Linked DNA regions of Homo sapiens. The protein of the gene in region 1 interacts with the protein of each later gene in a pairwise test. Each region holds a gene or a part of one and is shown in the gene's direction. Other genes may lie near its edges.

Evidence for each region.
Region 2: the proteins of AKIP1 (region 1) and SPTAN1 interact in a two-hybrid assay, tested with the Homo sapiens proteins (one study listed by BioGRID).
Region 3: the proteins of AKIP1 (region 1) and MAPK13 interact in a two-hybrid assay, tested with the Homo sapiens proteins (one study listed by BioGRID and IntAct).

Annotation. Positions count from the first base shown.
Region 1 is NC_000011.10:8,906,258-8,914,222, forward strand, and holds the start of AKIP1 (A-kinase-interacting protein 1), read left to right. Parts: upstream 1-4,931; 5' UTR 4,932-4,966; exon of another isoform or gene 4,967-5,186; 5' UTR 5,187-5,192; coding exon 5,193-5,414; intron 5,415-6,195; coding exon 6,196-6,276; intron 6,277-7,965. UniProt on the Homo sapiens protein: Enhances NF-kappa-B transcriptional activity by regulating the nuclear localization of the NF-kappa-B subunit RELA and promoting the phosphorylation of RELA by PRKACA.
Region 2 is NC_000009.12:128,576,486-128,583,588, forward strand, and holds part of SPTAN1 (spectrin alpha chain, non-erythrocytic 1), read left to right. Parts: intron 1-337; coding exon 338-471; intron 472-643; coding exon 644-788; intron 789-866; coding exon 867-1,021; intron 1,022-1,624; coding exon 1,625-1,760; intron 1,761-3,151; coding exon 3,152-3,253; intron 3,254-4,436; coding exon 4,437-4,574; intron 4,575-5,296; coding exon 5,297-5,407; intron 5,408-5,993; coding exon 5,994-6,071; intron 6,072-6,208; coding exon 6,209-6,364; intron 6,365-6,591; coding exon 6,592-6,796; intron 6,797-7,103. UniProt on the Homo sapiens protein: Fodrin, which seems to be involved in secretion, interacts with calmodulin in a calcium-dependent manner and is thus candidate for the calcium-dependent movement of the cytoskeleton at the membrane.
Region 3 is NC_000006.12:36,126,328-36,133,601, forward strand, and holds the start of MAPK13 (mitogen-activated protein kinase 13), read left to right. Parts: upstream 1-4,185; 5' UTR 4,186-4,255; coding exon 4,256-4,374; intron 4,375-4,943; coding exon 4,944-5,073; intron 5,074-6,293; coding exon 6,294-6,352; intron 6,353-7,274. UniProt on the Homo sapiens protein: Serine/threonine kinase which acts as an essential component of the MAP kinase signal transduction pathway.

The DNA of each region.
Region 1 (7,965 bases):
TGCAGTGGCGCGACCTTGGCTCACTGCAAGCTCTGCCTCTCAGGTTCACGCCGTTCTCCTGCCTCAGCCTCCCCTGGGACTACAGGCTCCTGCCACCACGCCCAGCTAATTTTTTGTATTTTTAATAGAGATGGGGTTTCACCGTGTTAGCCAGGATGGTCTCAATCTCCTGGCCTCGTGATCTGCCCATCTCAGCCTCCCAAAGTGCTGGGATTACAGGTGTGAGCCACCGCGCCCAGCCAAGAAGTCTTCAAAAAAAAAAAAAAAAAAACTCTACATAAATTTCAACTGTTTATATTAAATATCTTCCAAATACTATTCCTTTGATCTCTGACTTTTAAAAATGACAAGATTTCAATCATTCCTGCTCTGCAACCAATTTTTTTAACTCCCAGTCAATTTTAAACAGATTGTGAAAGTTAATTCTCAGAAGTTTGATTCATTTTCTTTAATCTACATCATCAAGATGACAATTTTGATAATGAGTTTCTTTCATTCCCCCAATAACCCAGTGAGATGATGTAATCAGGCAAAATGAATGATCTAATGACTCAGTCTGTAATACTACCTTACAAAGCTGTGATGATTCCAAAGCTCTTAAGTCTGCTGGAGAAATAACAATACCATTTGTCAAATAAAATGATTTATACAGTTTCTGGTATGTACAGTATAAATCACTGTCTAACTCTGGCACAGTACCCACTTTTGCATCCTGGGTTTTTAACCCTTTTTGGCCCCCTTCACATAAAGAAAAGGAATTTACATTGCTCTTCACTGGACTTGTTTTTTCTCCTCAAAAAGTCCCAAATACAGCACCAGTCTCTTTCCCCATTTCACAATTAAAGACCTCTTCCAACGCATCTCCTCCAAAACATAGAACCCTGACAACTAACTTTCATCTGTTCTCATTAGTGAATTTACCCTTGTGAAGATAGAAGTCATTAAAAACTCATATCAATAGTTTATTTTTCTGTCAATACTGACAGTCTATTTCCCTGTTGACCAGGCACATTCCTAATTAGTTGCCCTCTCTCCATTTACAATTCCATTTTCAGTTCTCACCAGTGGCTTTCATTTGGCGTGGGCTATATTTGATCCACAAGGGGCCTGATGGTAGGTCATGTTCTATCATTATTCCCAGCCAATCTTAAAAAAGATAAAAAGGAATCTCTCAAGTCTCTCAATCTGTGGTTTACAGGATGAATCTTTAAAATTATAAATATGCACATATAAAAATATATTTACAAATATATTTACAAATAGAAAAATAAAAACAAATGCAAAGATTTAATTTAGAGTCTTTTGGTTTCAGTTTCATTTCAAGCATCTTCTTTCCCATAAATTTCTAAATGTTAAATTCTGAGAAAATGTAGTTACAATTGAATATTCATTACATTCATTAAAGTTCATGTAGGTAGGTGTTTTTTTAATAGAAAAGCCAACTCTTTTTTTTCTTAAGATAGGTTCTTACTCTGTTGCCCCGGCTGGAGGGCAGTGGCACGATCATAGCTCACTGCAGCCTCAACATCCTGGACTCAAGCAATCCTCCCATCTCAACCTCCCGAGTAGCTAGGACTACAGGTATGAGCCACCATGCCAGGCTAGTTTTTTAATTTTTTAAAAAATAGAGACAGGGGTCTCACTATGTTGCCCAGGCTGCTGTCAAACTCCTGGCCTCAAGTAATCCTTCCACCTCAACCTCCTGAACTTCTGGGATTACAGGTGTGAGCCACCACAAAGCCACCTCTTTATGTGGGCTAACAGAAGTCTATTTAACTTAAAAATTAAATCAGAGTAATTTCAACAAATGGCTACTGAACACCCGCTACTTAACAGGTCCTGGAATGTTTAGGGACAAATAAGGAACAGTTTCTGCCTTCAAGGAATTGAAAGGCTATTGGGAGAGAAGAAACCATAACTACACATAATTTAAATTAGATTGGAAAAGTACACACAAAAAATTTTTTTAAGGCTATGGCAACAGAGGTGGCAACTGGGAACCACTGGGAAAAGTTTCAAAGAGCTGACCTGACAAAAAGAAAGTAGTGCCTCAACTGGAATGACTAAAATAGAATGGGGAAGAGAGACAAATGAGATGAGGTGTGGCTATGATACTGGGTAAGTGAGAGCATATTTTGGGAGACCAGGCTGAAGCTTAAGATAATAATACTAGCTAATATTTATTGAGCACCTACTATGTACCAAGTACTATAAATGCACTTTATAGATATTAACTTACTTGATATTCACAATAACCCTATGAGGAATGTGCTAAAACCTTGAAATCCATAAAAAATAAAGAGGACCAAATTCTGTCCCACTCCAACCACACTTATTGTAAAAGCAGTTAACGGGTATCTTATCTACCTCTTCTCTCACTGATTCCTAGGCCATCAGGCCTAGCTTGAAAACTACATTCTCTGCAAAACCTTTCTTGATCCTCCCAGCTGAACATAGTCTCCTAAGCTTGATAGCATTTTATCTGTGTCAATCTTATGGCATGTCCGAATATTTTGTTCTTGGTATTATAGATTTTATGTGCATTCTTTCCTCTTTTTTATTCTCCTTTAGTCTGATCCACATTCTGTTCTCCACAACTCCTAGGGCAGTGCCTGGCACATACTAATGCTAGCTAAGTCTATGGAGCACTTATCTTTGCCGGGCACTGTGCTAAGCATTTTACAGGAATTATCTCACAGAATCCTAATGGCAACCCAATTCACACATTCAAGGGCTATTTTTAGTCCTTACTGTGACAGACAAAATAGTAAATACTAGATGCACCTTAAACTCTAAACACTACAGATACAGTCCCTTCCCTCAAGAAGCTCAGTCTAAAGAAGTTAGTACTATTGGAATCCCCAGATATAGAGATGAGGAAAAGTGAGGCTCAAAGAAGTAATATGTTTGCCCAGAACCACAGAGCAAAAAAGTGGCAGAGAGCCTGGGCAACATAGGGAGACCCTGTCTCTACGAAACATTTAAAAAATTTGCAGGGCGTGGTGGCTGAAGAAGAGGATCGCTTGAGCCCAGGAGGTCGAGGCTGCAGTGAGCCGAGATCGTGCCACTGCACTTCAGCCTGGCTGACAGGGTGATACCCTCGTTTCTTTATTAAACAAAAAAGAAGAAGAAGGAAGAAGGAAGAAGAGGAAGAAGAGGAAGAGGAAGGAGGAGGAGGAGGAAGAAGGAGAAGGAGAAGGAGAAGGAGAAGAAATGGAAAAAAAAAGATGGCAGAGCCAGAATTCAAACCAGCTCTCCCGAGTGGATATACAGGACCCCATGCACGTACAACCACTATGTTCTAAAGGAGGCACTTGATAAACCCTTATTGAAGGAAATGTTTTGGAATACCAATAAAATGAAAAAAAAATCATCTCAAGAATAATGTAGGGTTTCACTCACTGTTATTCTTTTTTATAAGGGGAAAGCAGGAAATTTGCAAAAGTTAAGTAGCATAGAAGGAGGTCGTATTGGTCGGCTACTACTCACCTGGTACCTGATAATTGCTCATCAAGCCATCTGTTGAGACTAGGTGAGGATGGAGTTTCTCTCCTTTTTCATGAACCACAGAGGAGACTTAAAGGAGGATTTATTTGTGTTCCTTAAAGTGACCCCCACTGAGCGTGTCCCTCAAAGTGGACCTTCCTAAGCATCGGCGCTTTGCTTTGCGCTGGGTGGTGCGGCTGAGTCACTAATTAGCAGTGAGAGCCTGGGCTGTATCTCCTACCAAATAACCAGCGGAGTGGAGTGACAGGTCCTTACTTAAACATGGTTTAAGTAAGCATTCACAGTTCCTTACTTAAACATGGTGCAGTCTTCCTAAAAGATGGAGTCAGACCCCAAGAGAACAGGTCTCCAAAAATATGTGAATCCGTACTTCCCACTGGAGGGGAGAGAGAGCTGCGCTGAGGGATTATGAGAGACCCTACAACTTCTCAGGCGCCCCCTGCCCCGGGGGCCAGGAACATCTGCAGACAGCCCCGCCTCCGTCTCGCCTCAATCCCGAGCTGTTCCCTTCTCCAAAGGCCACCTTGGCAGCCACACAGTTTGGCCTAATCACCTCCTCAAACAAGAGTAGCGACACCCCAAAATGTAGACCAAGCAGAAAGAGGCGCGGGAGGCACTTGCCTTATTCCCCATGATGTTTTTGTTTTGAGACGAAGTCTTCCTCTGTCGCCCAGGCTGGAGTGCAGTGGCGCGATCTCGTCTCACTGCAACCTCCGCTTCCCGGGTTCAAGCGATCCTCCCACCTCGACCCTCCCGAGTACCTGGGACTACAGATGCGCGCCACCACTCCTCCTACTGTGTGTGTGTGTGGACACGGGTTGTCGCTATGTTGCCTACCTAGCTGGTACCCCATAACCACTCCTGGCTAGTGTGTGTGTGTGTGTGTGGACACGGGTTGTCGCTATGTTGCCTACCTAGCTGGTACCCCATAACCACTCCTGGCTAGTGTGTGTGTGTGTGTGTGTGTGTGTGTCTACACGGGTTCTCGCTATGTTGCCTACCTAGCTGGTACCCCATAATTTTTTAGCTCAACAGGAGACCTGCCTTTATACCCACCAAGTTAAGCAGCGCAGTAGCCCTCTAAGGGCCAGCCCCACGCCCAGAGGCTCCTCTGACAGCGTGGACAGATGCCCTGGGCTGCTGGCTCGACTCAGTCCTCAGCCCCCAGCCCCCGACCCCCGACCCCCGGCCCCCGACCCCCGACCCCCGGCCCCCAGCGCCCGGCGCCCCGCCTCCAGCGCTCAGCAGTTAACCAGGCAACTCGCGCGCAGACGCCAAGGCTGGGACGCAGAAGGCGTGTTTGGCCGCCCAGCCGCCCCGCCTCCCCCACTTCTCCCGCCTCTCCCGCCTCTCCCGCCTTCCGCCAATGGCCCAGCTGCGCCGGCGCCGCCGGGAGCGCTAGGCCTGGTCCCTCTTCCTAGAATAGCGTTGCGCGCATGCGCCTTGACGAGTGAGCCGGGTGAGGGGGCTCCCTAAGTAGCGGAAGGGGTAGATGAAAATGGAAGGGGCGGGCGCGCTAGGCCTAGTCCTGGCTGGGCTCCCGCTGGAGTGTGCGTTGGGGGCGGACCAGGAGCGGTGGTCTCCAGGGAGGTCGAGGCTGGGGCTCCCACCCGGATTTGGAGCAGGGTCGCCGCGGCCCAGCTGACCCGCCGGCGTTTGTACGTTGTGTGCCCACTCAGGGAGCCATGGACAACTGTTTGGCGGCCGCAGCGCTGAATGGGGTGGACCGACGTTCCCTGCAGCGTTCAGCAAGGCTGGCTCTAGAAGTGCTGGAGAGGGCCAAGAGGAGGGCGGTGGACTGGCATGCCCTGGAGCGTCCCAAAGGCTGCATGGGGGTCCTTGCCCGGGAGGCGCCCCACCTAGAGAAACAGCCGGCAGCCGGCCCGCAGCGCGTTCTCCCGGGAGAGGTGAGGGTCGCTGTGCCGGGGGCCGCCCCAGTCCTTCGCGCCGCGGTAGCCCGCTGGGAGCCAGGGGTGCGCAGCGCAGAAGCAGCTGAGGAAACCTTCCCTTAGCGGAAGCTGGAAAGGATCAGAACAATGAATGGAAAAGTCCTTTCAAAACGCTTTACATTTGACAGATTCTTGTTGGGTAGCTGTAGAATAACGGTAGTGTTCAGCCCTGGTTGGTTACTTAAAAAAAAAAAAAAAAATTAGCCGGGCGCGGTGGCTCATGCCTGCAATCCCAGCACTTTGGGAGGCCGAGGCGGGCGGATCACCTGAGGTCGGGAGTTCGAAAGCAGCCTGACCAACATGGAGAAATCCCGTCTCTACTAAAAATACAAAATTAGCCGGGCGTGGTGGCGCATGTCTGTAATCCCAGGTACTAGGGAGGCTGAGGCAGGAGAATCGCTTGAACCCGGGAGGCGGAGGTCGCGGTGAGCCGAGATCGCGCCATTGCACTCCAGCCTGGGCAACAAGAGCGAAACCTCCGTCTCAAAAAAAAAAAAAAAAAAAAAATCTTACAGCTATCATCTGATAGTAGAGGAAAGCCTGCAAGCCTGTCTCTTAGATCCTGGATAAATTGCATGTCTATCTTTTAGAGTTGGAATTCTTTCTCAATAACATCGTTCTTTCTGACATAAACTTGCAGAGCCTTTCCAAAAGTAAAAAGGAGACTATTTCCAAAATGGCTTCATTCTCCAGTAGGGAATCCTAGAGCTAACCTGTGACGTGCCATTTATTCAAATAGAGAGAAGAGAGACCCCCAACCCTTAGTGCTTCCTTCAGAACAATGGCTGAATTCATGGACTATACTTCAAGTCAGTGTGGGGTAAGTTGGTGTGAACCAAAACTATGCCCCATCACCTGCTGATGGACCACATTTGGATCTTTCTGGAATTTACGGAGAATCTGGACACTACCTGTTTCTCCTGCCCAGCCTTCACGGTCAGATTGTAATCAGTCAAGGACTTAAACCAGGGGGTAAATCCAAGTTAGAATTCACCCAATAAATGTTTATTGAATGCCTAACCCTGTAGCTGACAATATAGCAATGAAAAGTCAGAAAAGGTCTTCTGCCCTCAGTGATCTTTCAGTCTAGTGGGGGGAAAATAGCTTATTTGCCGAATTTCATAGCAAATAAGTTAAATATTAGGGGTTTTTTTTAACTTTTTTTTTTTTTTTTTTTTTGAGACAGAGGCTTGCTCTGTGGCACAGGCTGGAGTGCAGTGGTGTGATCTCGGCTCACTGCAAGCTCTCCCTCCTGGGTTCACACCATTCTCCTGCCTCAGCCTCCCTAGTAGCTGGGACTACAGGCGCCCACCACCACGCCCAGCTAATTTTTTTTTTTGTATTTTTAGTAGAGACGGGGTTTCACTGTGTTACCCAGGATGGTCTCCATCTCCTGACCTCGTGATCCGCCCGCCTCAGCCTCCCAAAGTGCTGGGATTACAGGTGTGAGCCACCGTGCCCGACCTTTTTTTTTTTTTTTTAATTGAGACAGAGTCTCACTCCATCACCCAGGCTGGTGTGCAGTGGCTCAGTCTCGGCTCACTGCAACCCCTACCTCCTGGCCTCCTGGTTCAAGCGATTCTCCTGCCTCAGCCTCCCGAGTAGCTGGGACTACAGGCACATGCCACCATGCCTGGCTAATTTTTGTATTTTTAGTAGAGACAGGGCTTCACCATGTTGGCCAGGCTGCTCTGGAACGCCTGACCTCGAGGGATCCGCGCATCTTGGCCTCCCAAAGTGCTGGGATTACAGGCTTGAGCCACCATACCCAGCCAAGTCATCTTTCGATACTTAGGGAATGTTGAGGGCAGGCCAGAAAACATTCAAGGAAATTACCTGCATGGAAGGCACTGTCTTCTAGGAATTACAGCAGGCTCTGGCCTCATGCAGTCTTAACACTTGGTGAGTCCTACATGGTTTTAAGGAGGCTGATCCACAAAGGAGATGGAAGAGAATACCTTGTTTCTGCCCTGCTTTTCAGTTTCATATGTTAAGATCTCAAAAAACTCTAATCTTTCTACATCTTTTATAAGAATCCCTGACTCCAAGAATAGGATTCCAACCAAAGAGGAATACTTCAGGGAATATTTTTATCTTATTTGTGTTGTTCAGTGGTTTTACAAAAATCAATAGCCTCAACTCTACTGTAAAGTGATTAAACCCTTGGTTCATGGTTCAGCAAAAGGAATAATATTTGTCTTTGGTTTGAGGTTTAGCAAATTGCTGTTCTTCATTTTTGTTTTCAGTTCATGCTTCAGTTCAAGTCTCTGTTATGAAATGGAGCCTCAGAACCTCTTGGCTTTCTAGAGATAGAATTAAGAATTGTGTACTGGGTTTGTCTCCACAGTTTGAAGCAGCCACTAAAACACATCTTTAGGTCTGTGTCCTCAAGTGCTTTCCCCAGCTTCTCGTTCTTCTGGTCACATGTTTTTTAGACAGTGTGCCTACCCTGTTCAAAACAAGCAGGGCTGTGATGTCATTAGTCATTATCAAGGGCAAGTCTAAGGCT
Region 2 (7,103 bases), on another chromosome or scaffold:
TTTCAAGCAGTTAGGGTAGATGAGTACATTGATAAAGTTACCACACAGTTGTTGCCAAACTATTTATTAACATAAAGGTTTTTGGCACTTTTGCACATAACCACCTTATAGACTAACCACACTACTCCAAAAGATAGAGAATGGCTCTCCCCTTTTTACATAAGAAATAGAAACTCTTTGGAGTTGTAGTTCACTTTGTATCATGTTGACCATTATTTCTTGTGATTCTCTTCAGAGTGGTGATTTGCTGAGATGCTTCAAGGAACCAACCCCAGGGTAACTAGTTGGAGGAGCCAGAAGTTGTGTACAAATCCAGTCTCTTCTCTTCCTTGTTTAGGAGCAGCACCCTGAGGAGGAACTGATCAAGACTAAGCAGGATGAAGTCAATGCAGCCTGGCAGCGGCTGAAGGGCCTGGCTCTGCAGAGGCAGGGGAAGCTCTTTGGGGCAGCAGAAGTTCAGCGCTTTAACAGGTGTCAAGCCAGAGTGGGCTTTGGGGAATGGGTCTCAACCTGGAGGGGAGTTGTGAAGCACAGGGCATGTGCTGGTGAGCTGTCGAGGCTGACTAGGCCTTGGTCCCATGGGGTGTTCCTAGTTCTAGGGAGTCATCATTGCTGTGGATTAACTGGTGCCTTTGTTCTGTAGGGATGTGGATGAGACTATCAGTTGGATTAAGGAAAAGGAGCAGTTAATGGCCTCTGATGATTTTGGCCGAGACCTGGCAAGTGTTCAGGCTCTGCTTCGGAAGCACGAGGGTCTGGAGAGAGATCTTGCTGCTCTAGAAGACAAGGTGGGTTTTACAAGCAGCTGATTCTGTAAATAAGTTACCAAGGGTCAGGAGAATAGTTCTGACGGAGTTCATTTCTAGGTCAAAGCCCTGTGTGCTGAGGCTGACCGCCTGCAACAGTCCCACCCTCTGAGTGCAACACAGATTCAAGTGAAGCGAGAGGAACTGATTACAAACTGGGAGCAGATCCGCACCTTGGCGGCAGAGAGACATGCACGGCTCAATGATTCATACAGGTGCAAATAATGCTCCAGGTCTTAACCAGTATCATTTGGCTTCTTTTTTGGAAGCAGGAATAGCAGAGTTAAGGGTCTGTTCTGTGTTCTGTGAAAGTGTCAGGTATCACCTACAAATGCAAATCACTTCTTACCTATGTTCTCTCTGTTTGGAGACTGGCAACTGTATCATGTGTAGTATACGTATGGTATTTACAACTTCATAAATTCTTCTATTCTGCATCACTGCATTATGATTGATAGAATGGGAATGTCCCTTTAAGTATCTGAGTATCACATGAAATATCTTATTAAAACCAGGATTAGAAAGGAAAAGAATCCTTGCTAGCCAAGGGTTGAACCTGGGAATAACAAGGAAGTTGAAAATGTGGGACAGGATTGGGGCATTATAGTGATGGAGAGAACCTAAGTTTTAAAGGGTTGATTTCAGCCTTCTCTTGCTTTCCTTCACAGTCTAGATTGGGAAATTTTCATATTTCCCAGAATTAGAATTTATATAGTTTGTTAGACATTTGAGAACATAGAATTCAGAGCTTTAGGGAGGCCATTTTCCACCCTGGAACCTCCGCTGGAAACATAATGTCTTCCTTTGGTTTTCCCTAGGCTTCAACGCTTCCTTGCTGACTTCCGTGACCTCACCAGCTGGGTGACTGAGATGAAAGCCCTCATCAATGCAGATGAGCTTGCCAGTGATGTGGCTGGGGCTGAAGCCCTGCTAGATAGACACCAAGAGCACAAGGTAATGGTATCTCTAGAATCTTCCAGAAGTGAAGATTTTAGCTTATAATGCACCAGTTTATCAGTGTTGGGTGAGGCCTATAGTCGGCGTTGGTACCATGTTATTCACAGGTGTTTCTCATCATGAGGATTATGGTTGGTTTTGCCTTTGGAGACCTGGTCTACCTGCTTCTGATAGAGGCTTAACTGGGTTCAGTGTCAAGAGGTTCACTGTGGTCCATAAAAGCAAACAGACAAGCTCTGGCGAGATAGAAGTGCTACTACTTGGCACATTGATCCTTTGTGATGTAAAAAGTATTTGTTGGGCCAGGCACGGTGGCTTATGTCTGTAATCCCAGCACTTTGGAAGGCTGAGGCGGGTGGATCATGAGGTCAAGAGATCAAGACCATCCATGCCAACATGGTGAAACCCCATCTCTACTAAAAATGCAACAGTTAGCTGGTCATGGTGGCACGCGCCTGTAGTCCCAGCTATTCAGGAGTCTGAGGCAGGAGAATCGCTTGAACCCGGGAGGCAGAGGTTGCAGTGAGCCAAGATCACACCATTCCACTCCCGTCCGGACAACAAGAGTGTTTCACTCTGTCTCAAAGAAAAAAAAAAAAAAAAAAACCTTCTGAGAGGTTTTAATGTGCTAGATACAAAATCAATATACTGAAAGTCAAACATGTTTCTCTACACTAGCAACAGAAACATAATTTTTAAAAATACTACTTATTAGAGCAGAAAATATAAAGTACTTAGGAATAAGTCTAACAAAAGAGTGTAAGACACTTCTGGAGAAAACTATAAAACTTTGTTAAAAGGCATTAAATAAAAACTGAATAGATAGAATGATTTATCTAGTACACAGATGGAACGATCTTCTGTGAAGGTGTAAATTCCCACCAGGATATATACCGTTAATGCAGTTCCAGTCAAGTGCTCAGCAGGTATATGTGTGTGTTTCTTTTTGCAATGAGATAAGCTGATTCCAAAACTGATTTGGAAGAAAAAAATTCAAAAAAAGCTGAGACAATGTTGAAGATCATAATGGGGCCAGGGAGGGACTCGCCCTACCAGGTTCTATAAAATCATAGTAAACAAGTCCATTTGGCACAAAGAAGACAGAGCCCTGGAATGAAAGAGAGCTCAGACCCATGTGAATGTGTGGAACCTTGACAAATGACAGGTGACCTGAAAAGCCATTTGGAAAGGATTTCATCAGTGAGTGATACTCTCACATTTGATGACCTAGACTGATTATGTATTAGGAAATCTGGCCTAATCTTTCATTTTGTTTCTCATTTTAGATGTCATAGTCTGGCTTATAATGCTTATGTAAAATTCAGCACCTTGTTTTTATTTTGTAAGATGCTGGGCACAAATCATGGCTTTGTTTTTTTCTCCTGTAGGGTGAAATTGATGCCCATGAAGACAGCTTCAAATCTGCAGATGAATCTGGACAGGCACTGCTTGCTGCTGGTCACTATGCCTCAGATGAAGTGAGGGAGAAGGTAAGAGAAGAGAAATGGAGCTTTTGAGGAGCAAATTACACCTTTCACTAAGTCTCTGAAAGCTATTATTCATCCTTAAATATCCAGAGAACGCATTCACCATGATATGTGAGAAACTTTCCTTTCTCTGCAGAGGTTTAAAAAGAAGGTATATGTATAGTGTGCTGATTTCCTGAGAGACAGTCCTCCTTATCTGGGGCATGTGTGGCATGTTTCCTACTTACAGGGACTTTCTGTAGGGAGCTGAGTCTTGCATTAGGAGTTGGAGCAAAGAGGAAACAAATTTTTATAAAATGATACATAGGCCAGGTGTGGTGTGACCCCAGCACTTTCAGAGGCCAAGGCAGGAGGATTGCTTGAGGCCAGGAATGGGAGACCATCCTGAACAACATAGTGAGACCCCCATCTGGACAAAAAATTAATAAATTAGCCAGACATGGTGGCACATTCCTATAGTCCGAGCTACTTGAGTTCAAGGTTATAATGAGTTATGATTTGCACCACTGCACTCTGGCTTGAGTGACAGAGTGAGACCCTGTCTCTAAAAAAAAATAAATAAATAAAAATAAAATATGTATATATATACATATTTTATTTTACTTTTTTTATATGTGTATATATATACACATATGTATATAAGTTTTGAAGTATCTTCGAGTATAAAATTGCCTAGGAACATTAGATAAATAATGATTTATATGATTTATATGTTTTTTAGTATTACATAGAGTAAAGACATTTCAAAGACTTGTCATTAGTAGCTTCGGAGCCTAAAGTCTAGGGAGTTTCTGAATTTATTTTCCATATGTTATGGAGCACCCACTCAGTTGACATTTCTTAGTGGAGAGTCCCTACTCCATTTATACTCCATTAAACTCCATTTATACTGCCTCACTTTTAAATGGATGCCCTATTTCTTCTACCTGGGAGTTTACTTACTGTTTTTACCTAAAGTCATTTGTGATCATTTGGCAATAAATTAATTCTAGATTAATTAAAACAGGCCATCCCTTTTATATTGAACATGCACATACAAGTGAATGTTGTTTTTCCCCTTTTGCAAATCGGAAAAAAGGCCTGAAGATTAGCACTAGGATTAGGAATTCCAGGATAGCTGTTCTGTCTGCCTCGGAGGCATTGGGGCTGACCTCATCTCCCTGACCATGTCTCCTATGCCCCCAAGCTGACCGTCCTTTCCGAGGAGAGAGCGGCGCTGCTGGAGCTGTGGGAGCTGCGCAGGCAGCAGTACGAGCAGTGCATGGACCTGCAGCTCTTCTACCGGGACACTGAGCAGGTGGACAACTGGATGAGCAAGCAGGAGGTAATCTGTGAGCAAAGCCTTGCCAGTGGTGGGAGAAGAAGGGCCTGTGTTTTGCCTCCTCGGGTAGTGTGCTTGTTTTGTTTTAGGACATCAGTACCATGTTAGTTCTGAATCCATTGAAGAGGGGGAATTGAGCAAGCTTCTCTCAGCTCTGCCAGCATCTCTCCCTGCTGAGATTGCAAGGCCTTCAGAAAAGGCCCCAGCTTTTCAGATTAGTGTGATGTAAAATGTTTTATTAAAGAGATTTTTTTCTTAGAACTTAGCATTGCTGGGTGCAGTGGCTCCCTGCTGTAATCCCAGCACTTTGGGAGGCTGAGATGGGAGTATCCCTTGAGCCCAGGAGCTCAAGGCTGCAGCAAGCTATGATCGTACCACCGCACTCTAGCCTGTGCAACAGACCGAGATCCTGTCTCACAAAAAAAAAAAAAACAAACAAAAAAAACAAACCTTAGCATTATGTAACATCTGAATCTAATAGAAGCAACAAAAACTATGTAAGAGAAGTTTCAATAGAATGTGGAATAGGATTTCATGATATGGCTGGATTGATTTTAAGAAAATCCAAAAGGACTTTAGACTTCCTAGAAGAGATCTTAGAAGTTTAGCAGCCATAAAATCTCTTTCCTTCTTTTTATATTTTGGCCAAAATACCCTTTGCTTCACAGTCTTAGAAGATCAAAGGAATAGGACATTATTCTGAACACTTTGTTTCCTTTGGCAAGGCGTTCCTGTTGAATGAAGACTTGGGAGATTCCTTGGATAGTGTGGAAGCGCTTCTTAAGAAGCACGAAGACTTTGAGAAATCCCTTAGTGCCCAGGAGGAAAAGATTACAGTAAGACCCCTTCTTGTCAGTGCTTTCAAATGACCCTTATAGTAAGCCAGAGTCTTTTTCCCTGGAAGGATTCCAAACAGATTTGATGAAAGATTCATATGCAGAGTACTCCTGTGGGTGCTTAAACTTTCACAAGGATGACATGCTATCTCGTTGAAGACATAATACAACTTTATGGAAAAATGATTTACTTAATGGAAACCTCCAAACTTCTTTAAGTTTGTACCCTTCATTAAAAGTAGGTCAGGGTTAATATTAAGAGGTACTCTTCCCATTGAAAATACATCTTAGAAATAAGAATTTGGAAAGCTGTTAACCTGTGTTTGACCCCTGCCAGGAGATCGTGCCACAACTAATGTCTCCAGTCTTGAATGGAGGTAGTGCAGTCTTATGATATCTGACTGGTGACATCAAGCAAAATCTCAAAAGTTATGAGAAAAAATGTCATCACCAACCTTTGGGTGAAAACCTTGACCTATGTTAAAGTTTGGTGTGTTTTATGATCTGTTCAGCAGTTACTTTTCTCCAGAGGCCAAGCTTGGGACTAGTGTGCTTACCAATGAAGAACTCTTATCTTCCTTCCTAGGCATTAGATGAATTTGCAACCAAGCTAATTCAGAACAACCACTATGCAATGGAAGATGTGGCCACTCGCCGAGATGCTGTAAGTTTGTAGGTTCTTCATGCTCCTCCTTTTTGGTACATGAATGTCTCTTCTAAGATGTTCCAGTTAAGTCTCTTCAACTGGATATCCCTTTGGGAGTGAACACTAGAGACTCACAGGGGATCCTTGTCTTTCAGCTGTTGAGCCGCCGCAATGCCCTTCACGAGAGAGCCATGCGTCGCCGGGCCCAGCTAGCCGATTCTTTCCATCTGCAGCAGTTTTTCCGTGATTCTGATGAGCTCAAGAGTTGGGTCAATGAGAAGATGAAAACTGCCACAGATGAAGCTTATAAAGTAATGTACTGTTAGTGTTGCCATGTAGCACTCGATTAGTAAGCTAAACACAGCTCTCACAAATAAATTGTAGCTAAAGGACGAAATAAGGGATTCCAGAAACCCCACTACTTAATGTAAGCCAACTGTTTTATACATTCCTCCATAAAGATAAGTATGAAGGTAGTGCAAGGGAACTTGACGTTCTCAGGTTCAAGATAGAAAGAACCCCCTTCTTTTATTCACAGGATCCATCCAACCTACAAGGAAAAGTACAGAAGCATCAGGCTTTTGAGGCTGAGCTCTCAGCAAACCAGAGCCGAATTGATGCCTTGGAGAAAGCTGGCCAAAAGCTGATTGATGTCAACCACTATGCCAAGGATGAAGTGGCAGCTCGTATGAATGAGGTGATCAGTTTGTGGAAGAAACTGCTAGAGGCCACTGAACTGAAAGGTAAGAGATGTTCCATTGAATTGTGACATGCATGTTTGGGGAACTAAATACCCCTTTCTATTAAGTATTTTAGGGACATATACCCCCCAAGAAAGGTGAGGTGGATGACTTTGGCGTTAGGGATAATTTCCTGTGTAGGAATTACTTGGCTTAAGTTCTTGATAATAATTTGGTAAATGTGGTCGAGCATACTGGTTGGTGAGGGAGTCTGAGTGAGAAGGAACTGAATTGGGCCTCATTGCTGAAAATCAAAGTTCAGCTGAGAGCCAAGGGCATTTACTAATTCTCCAGTGTCCTTATATCTCAA
Region 3 (7,274 bases), on another chromosome or scaffold:
TGTCTCGATCTCTAAGAAACCAGTCACCAATTCCCACACCATGTCTCTGCCTCCAGAGGCTCACAGGCTAGCTAGGAAGACAATGCAACAACAGCAGCCACTTCTCAGGCACTTGCTGGGCACCAGGAATTCTAGTTGACAGTTAAATGTGCAGACTTAGGAGCCAGATGCCAGGTATGAAGATCATGTTCACCACTTTCTTAGTTATGTGCGACCTTGGGCAAATTACATAACCTCTCCGGGCCTCAGTCTCTCCATCTGTACCAGGGGAATAATTATATTGGAATAGACTAGACCAAAGCAGCCCTGACATCTGGGAGCTGCCTGGTCCTATCAGCCAGGACTTGGTTGCTCAGAGCTGTCCAGCCTGGTGCAATTCGGTCTTGCTGTGCTGAACATAGACGATTTCACAGACATCAGCATAGAACAAGGCCATCCGCGACCAGGGCAGACTAAGACAAAAATGAAACTACTCCTTAATCATATCTGAACACAGACAAAACATGAATATTGTCAAATCACAGAAATGACCCAAATCCCCCTGTAGAGCTAAGCTGAGTGGAGGCTGCTGGTTTACCAGCTGTAGCTTCAGCCTTGCTCTAGTCTGCTTTCCTTCTAGGCAAGATGTATTAAGACTCCCAATCATAGTGTTAGCTCCACTTCCTGACAGCATCAACCCAGAACAAAGCCTCACTTCCTTAACCTCTCCCCAATCACCTAACACAACTCCAAACATTAGACTAAGTCCTTTCTAACGCCCCCTTCCTGGGACGCCCCATGATCCCCATGGTGCATGCTCTCCCTTGTTGCAACGAGTCATCAGCTCAGCTTGTTCACCCACACGTGTGTTTCTGGTGATCTCTGGTTGGAGGCATTGAAAGTTCCTACCTCATTGGGTTGTCGTGAGGAATATGTACTTGAAATGATACAATCCTAAGGCTCTTTCAATATGCTTGTCATACTTTATTATTATCCCCATTTCACAAGGAGGACACTGAAGCTCAGAGAGAGGGCCAGACTTTGCCCAAGGTCACACAGCTGGTAATGACAGAGAAAGGATGTAAATTCAGGCCTCATTCCAAAGCTAGTTTCCTGAATCCCTGCCTCCATGCTCCATGCTCATAGGGCAGAAACCAACAAGACAACTTGGGTTGGTGTTTGGAGAGGAGAAGAGCAAAGGGCCCTTGGAACTCAAAAGAGAGCCTCAGGCTGGAGAAGCAGGGTATCCAGGATGACCTGAGTGACCCTCTCCTCCTCCCCTCCCTTTCATGACTCCCCAACTGGATCCTCCAAGGGCTCCCTCCCAGACTGCCTGGCTGCTGAGTAATGCAGAGCCAGTCAGGCCCAGAGTAGGGGTCAGTGTCAGCAGAGTCGGAGGCCTGAGTCACTTCCTGACCCTTGCTCAAGAGCATCCGGAGCTACAGCCAGAGTGGCCACTCGTGCTCTCAGAAGATCGCACCCACTTGGGCGATGAGCATGTCCTTGGTATCCCCACCTTCCTGGGCTCACCTCTGCCCCACTCAGGTGTTTAAGACGTGCAGCAGAGAGGCGCCATCCTGACCTGGTGCCACATCCTAGCCCCTTTCCTTACTGGATCCTCAAACCAGAAGAAAACCTGAATCTCTGAGGTCAGTTACTCTCTTTTGCCTGCGTCTAGCCTAAAATCTGGCTTCCAGGACCCCACCCCAACTTCAGAATCAAGGTACCTTGCACTGGTGCCACTGATCCCAAAGGTCCAAAACTCCTGCAGCACTCACAGGCAAGCGACCCCGTTCCTTAGGCTCTCATGGGGTCTCAGGGCCAGAGTAGGGGGTGGGGGAGGGAAAAGGCTGGGGAAAATATCAGATACCCCAGGGCAGGATGGACTGAGGGAGACATGGTTGGATCAGTAGACATGTCCTTATGATGTGGGCAAGGCCATTTCCTTTGAGGAGCAATTCTGTCAACTCTAGGCCACCGCATAGCCTCGCAGCCAAGAGCAGGGACTCTAGAATCAGGCTGTACTTGCTTTCACCCAGCTCTGCCCTTACCAGCTGTGTTACCTTGGGCAAATTACTTAGCCTCTCTGTACCTCGGGTTCCTCATCTCTAAAATGAGGATAATCATATTACTGACTCACAGGCCTCTTACCAGGATTAAGTGAGTTATATAAAACACTTAATGACGGGCACATGGCAAACACAAGTGTGTATTAAATGACTCTTTTACATCTAATGGGCTGACTCCTCCATTCATTCTCCACACATTTGCTGTTATATTGCCATGTGCCAGAAATGAAAAAGACAGATTGCCTGACTGAAATAATGGCAGGTGTTGTTGTGTGATGATGGCACCCCACCCTCATCTCAGAATGATCTTCCAGGCTGTGCCTGAGGCTGCAGGACTGCCCGGGAGGGCTTGGGGCACAGAGTTTGGGGGCTGCAGACTCCCTAGTGTGGGCCCCCGGCTTGCTGTAAGCCCCTAGCAAATTTCTTTCCTTGTTCAATAGACCTTCTTTTTGACAAAGTGAAGCAGGTGGTCCCCGCCCCTTCCACAGCCCCATGCCTGGGCAAGAGAGGGGTTGGACAAGTCAGGCTGGGCATCCAGAGCCCTTGCAGCCATCTCCTCCCCCCACCTGCCCACCTTGCTCCTCAGAGGCCTTTGTGGTTTGAGCAAAGAATCTCCATCAGGCTGCACAGGCCACCAGACAGGTGGCAAGGGCCCCAATTAGTCATTGTCCTCATAGAGCCTTAGGAAGTCCACAGAAACTGTGTTCAAAACTGCACATTTGGGCCAGGTGCGGTGGCTCACTTCTGTAATCCAAACACTTTGGGAGGCTGAGGTGGGCGGACCACCTGAGGTCAGGAGTTGAAGACCAGCCTGGCCAACATGGTGAAACCCCGTCTCTACTAAAAATACAAAAATTAGCTAGGAGTGGTGGTGTGCACCTGTAGTCCCAGCTACTCAGGAGGCTGAGGCAAGAGAATTGCTTGAACCTGGGAGGCGGAGGTTGCAGTGAGCTGAGATGGCGCCACTGCACTCCAGCCTAGGCAATAGAGTGAGACTCCATGTCAAAAACAAACAAAAATCCTGCACATTTGAACCTGCGTGGATATTTGGTATTATAGAATTAGTGCTATTAATTTTAGGTTTAAGAATGTATTGTGGGCCAGGCGCGGTGGCTCACGCCTGTAATCCCAACACTTTCGGAGGCCGAGGCGGGTGGTTCACGAGGTCAGGAGTTCAAGACCAGCCTGGCCAAGATGGTGAAACCCCATCTCTATTAAAAATACAAAAATTAGCCGGGTTTGGTGGCAGGCACCTACAATCCTAGCTAATCGGGAGGCGGAGGCAGAGAATTGCTTGAACCCGGGAGGCGGAGGTTGCAGTGAGCCGAGATGGCAACTGCACTCCGACAGAGTCTCAAAAAATATATATATATAGTATTGTGGATACGTACTTTTAAAAATCCTTACGTTTTAGAGATACAAAAATATTTATGAATAAAATGATATGACGCCTGGGTTTTGCTTCAAAACGATGGTGGGAGAGGAATGTGGATGAAATAAAATTGATTATGAGTTGTGGTTGCTGGGGAATTGGGGTCACGGGGGTTCATTAGAACCTCCTATCAGATGTGGTTCAGAAGCCTCAGACCTGGGAGCTGGCTAGAAATGCAGAATCTCGGCTCCACCCCAAACCTACTGAGTCAGGATCTGTATTTTAATCAAATAAAATGCCCAGGGGATTCCTGAGCACACTGAAGTGTGAGAAGCGCTGGCTTACTCTGTTCAATTCTTTCCTGCATGTTTGACATTTTCCATAATGAAGAGGTTGTGGGGTTTTGTTCTGCTTTCCTGTGTGTTCACAGTCACAGGGAGCTCTTCCTACGGAGACCGGGGCTGGAGGGAACTGGGAAGCACTGCCTCCCCGCTCCTGCTTGGACCCACCAGCCCCGCCGCTGGCCCGCGCTCGGCTGGGAGGCACCGGGGTCCCGCTGGGCAGCCCCGACCCCGTGCCTGGGCCGCACCTGCCGCAGTGGCTCCGTCGGGCCGGGCGGAAGCGCGGGAGCGCAGGGCTGGACAGGCCCGGGCGTGGCGGCCCCGGCGCACCTGGGCGAGCCGGCAGGTGGGAGCGTAGCAGCCCGGGGCCCCCGCCCTCGCGCGGGGGAGGAGCGGGCGGCGCGGGGCGGGCGCAGCGGGGGTCGGGGCGCTGGGAGCCCGTTGGGCCGCGAACGCAGCCGCCACGCTGGGGCCGCCGAGATCGGGTGCCCGGGATGAGCCTCATCCGGAAAAAGGGCTTCTACAAGCAGGACGTCAACAAGACAGCCTGGGAGCTGCCCAAGACCTACGTGTCCCCGACGCACGTCGGCAGCGGGGCCTATGGCTCCGTGTGGTGAGACCCCTGGGCCGCTGGGGGGCGGGGGGCGGGCGCCAGGCTCTCCCCTTTCCGCCCAGCCCGCCCTGGGCTGGCCCCTCGCCAGCGCCACCTTGACCGCGGACCTCAAGGCCCAGCGCCCTCCCCGGGGCCACCCAGCGGCCATCTCCCTTTTCTCACCGAGTGGCTGAGTGAGGTCTCTGGGGGTTGAGTTGGGACTGGGCCTGGTTCTCCAGGACTGTACACTTGCAAGACCCCAGAGTTCATCGGGCAGATCCTCACTGTTACAGACGAGTACACCGAGGCCCCAAGAGGGGGAGGTGGCTCGCCAAGTTGCAGACAGAGTGAGACTCCCGCCCTGCCGTGGATCCCGTCGCAATGAGACGTTGCTGCCCCTGGCGCTGTGCCCCTCTCTCAGCTCCTGCCTGGCTTCCTACTCCCTGCCCTGCGTCCCGCGGCTCCCCCATATTCTAGGTGGTGGGCCTAGTCCCCTCTCAGCCCAGCTGCCCAGTGGGAGGGGTCAGGGCGGTCTGGGAGATACGGCCCAGGAGGAGAGCCTCGCCTGCTGACCGGCCTGTGCCCGACAGCTCGGCCATCGACAAGCGGTCAGGGGAGAAGGTGGCCATCAAGAAGCTGAGCCGACCCTTTCAGTCCGAGATCTTCGCCAAGCGCGCCTACCGGGAGCTGCTGCTGCTGAAGCACATGCAGCATGAGAACGTAGGTGGTGGCTGCCCCGGGGAGGGGGTGGGGGCTGCCCTGGGGAGTCAGGGGCAGGCGCAGGCGGGGCCTCCCGGTATGGAGAGCTCGGGACAGTCTCCTCCCTGCTCCCCTGACGGTGCCTCTCGCCTCACTATTGAAAGGAGGGGGTGCCGAGACCTTCCCTGCCCACTTTCCAGGAAGAGGTCAAAGGGTATTTTTGGCAGAATGCACTTTGTGAGGTACAGACTGTGTTATCCTACAGAGGAAATTGGCACAGGGGAACTTTGTAATTGGTTCCATGTCTGAGAGCTTGTGGCCAGCTGGGACTAGAATCCTAGTTAGCGTTGTGTCCACGTGACCCTGATAACAATAGCAATATACACATATTGAGCACTTCCTATGTTCTAAGAGCTCTGCATACACTAACTTGTCTAGTCCTCATGATATATGAGTACTACTGCCCCCATGTCACAGACAGGAAACTAAAGCACAGCAAGGCTCACAGATTAGATGGTTAGTCAGTAGCAGAGCTGGGGTTTCAATCTCGGCAGCGAGGCTCCCGGTCTGAGCACATGACCATCAGATTGTCTTGTCTGATAGAAGCAGCTGGGAAAACCAGGGGCCCAGCTCAGGGCCTGGCAGCCAGGCTTTGCTGCAGGATACCTAGATTGGAGGGCAGACATTTCAAAGAATGATTTCAAAATGTTATGTACATTTTAAGCCCATCCTTCTCCAGCAAACCCCTCCCCTATGGCCTCCAGCCAGGGTGATCTTGCCCTTGGCTCTGAACCAGCCCTGTGGCAGGCAAGGATGGATGTGGCTGGAGACCCAAGGTCAGGGGCAGGGAGTTTGCTGGCTGAAAAGCTCCTTCTCTGTTCCCTCCTTTTTCCCTTCCACCCTCCCCTTATGCTTTCCTGCTGCCTAGGTGAGTTGAGAGTGGGTTTGTGTTGCTTGCCCTGACACCAGACTTGACAGCAATGAGCACACATCATTCTCCCCACCTTCCCTTCTCCCCAGCCTGACTCTCTGTCATGATTTATTGCAAACTCCCTCCAAATCCAGGGGATTCCTCTAGGCCTCTGCCCTTTTTACTGCTTCCAAGAAGGTTGGAGACATGCCTCCTGCTGGAGGTGGTGTATTAGGAAAGGGTGGATGGCCCTGTGCATGGCCAGGGCCCAGGAGGAGGTGGGAGGAGAAGGTAGCGTCTGTCTAGCCCTCACAGGTGACTTCTTCCCCAGGTCATTGGGCTCCTGGATGTCTTCACCCCAGCCTCCTCCCTGCGCAACTTCTATGACTTGTGAGTTGGGCTGCACTGGGTTCTGGGGCATTTGCAGGCCTTACATGCCGCTGGGGAGCAAGGTGGGGGAGGGTCTAGGGTTTCTATTCCGGGTGTGGCGGGGAGAGCCTCCTTCCCTGGCAGTCCTGTGCCTTTGCCTGTCAAGTGTGATTCTCTCTGGAAAGATGCTTTTAGCCAAAGGCAGGCAGGAAGAGGCAGGAAGGACTTTGTGGGGTGCTTGCCTGGCAGGGGGCAGTCTGCACAGCTGCTTTGCTTTTTACCCAGCTTTAACACCATGAAGACACATCTGCCAGTCCTCACAGGGTTAGCACCAACTCACCTTTCCTGGGGACACAGATGTGAGTCTGGACCTTGGAGCTCTTTCTAGCATGAAGCAAGGATTAAGAAGCCTTGGCTGCCTCTGGCTGATGGGGGTGTTTGACAGAATGGCAGAAAACCAGAATATTTAGCTGCAAAATGTATAGCTTTGCCTGTGCAGTGTCTGAATGAGACTGGACTATTTGGACAAGATGGAGAAGTCAGTGTGGCACGTGGAGGCCAGCAGCTGGCTTGGTCAAGCTGAATCTGGACTGACCCTACAGGCAGCCTCAAGACCTGGGGACTTTGAGCCGGGAGGTGATATGTTCAGATGGGATTTGGGGGATGCACACTGGCAGCAGCAAGAAAGGAGTAGGAAGCAGCTCGGAGGCAGAGGGGGAGAGCCTGGAGGTCAGTGTTAGTGATCTAAAGTAGGGATCTAAAGCAGAGGTGATGGGATGCCAAGAGCAGACTTGAGGCCCCATTTGGGAGGCAGGGCCGACACAATGTTCCATCTGTTGGGGTGCAGTAGCTGAGTGAGGTGGCAGAGGTGGAGGAATGGGCAGGTTCCTGCTTGAAATACACGGTAGAGGAAGAACAGATCTTGGGGGAAAGATAACGAACT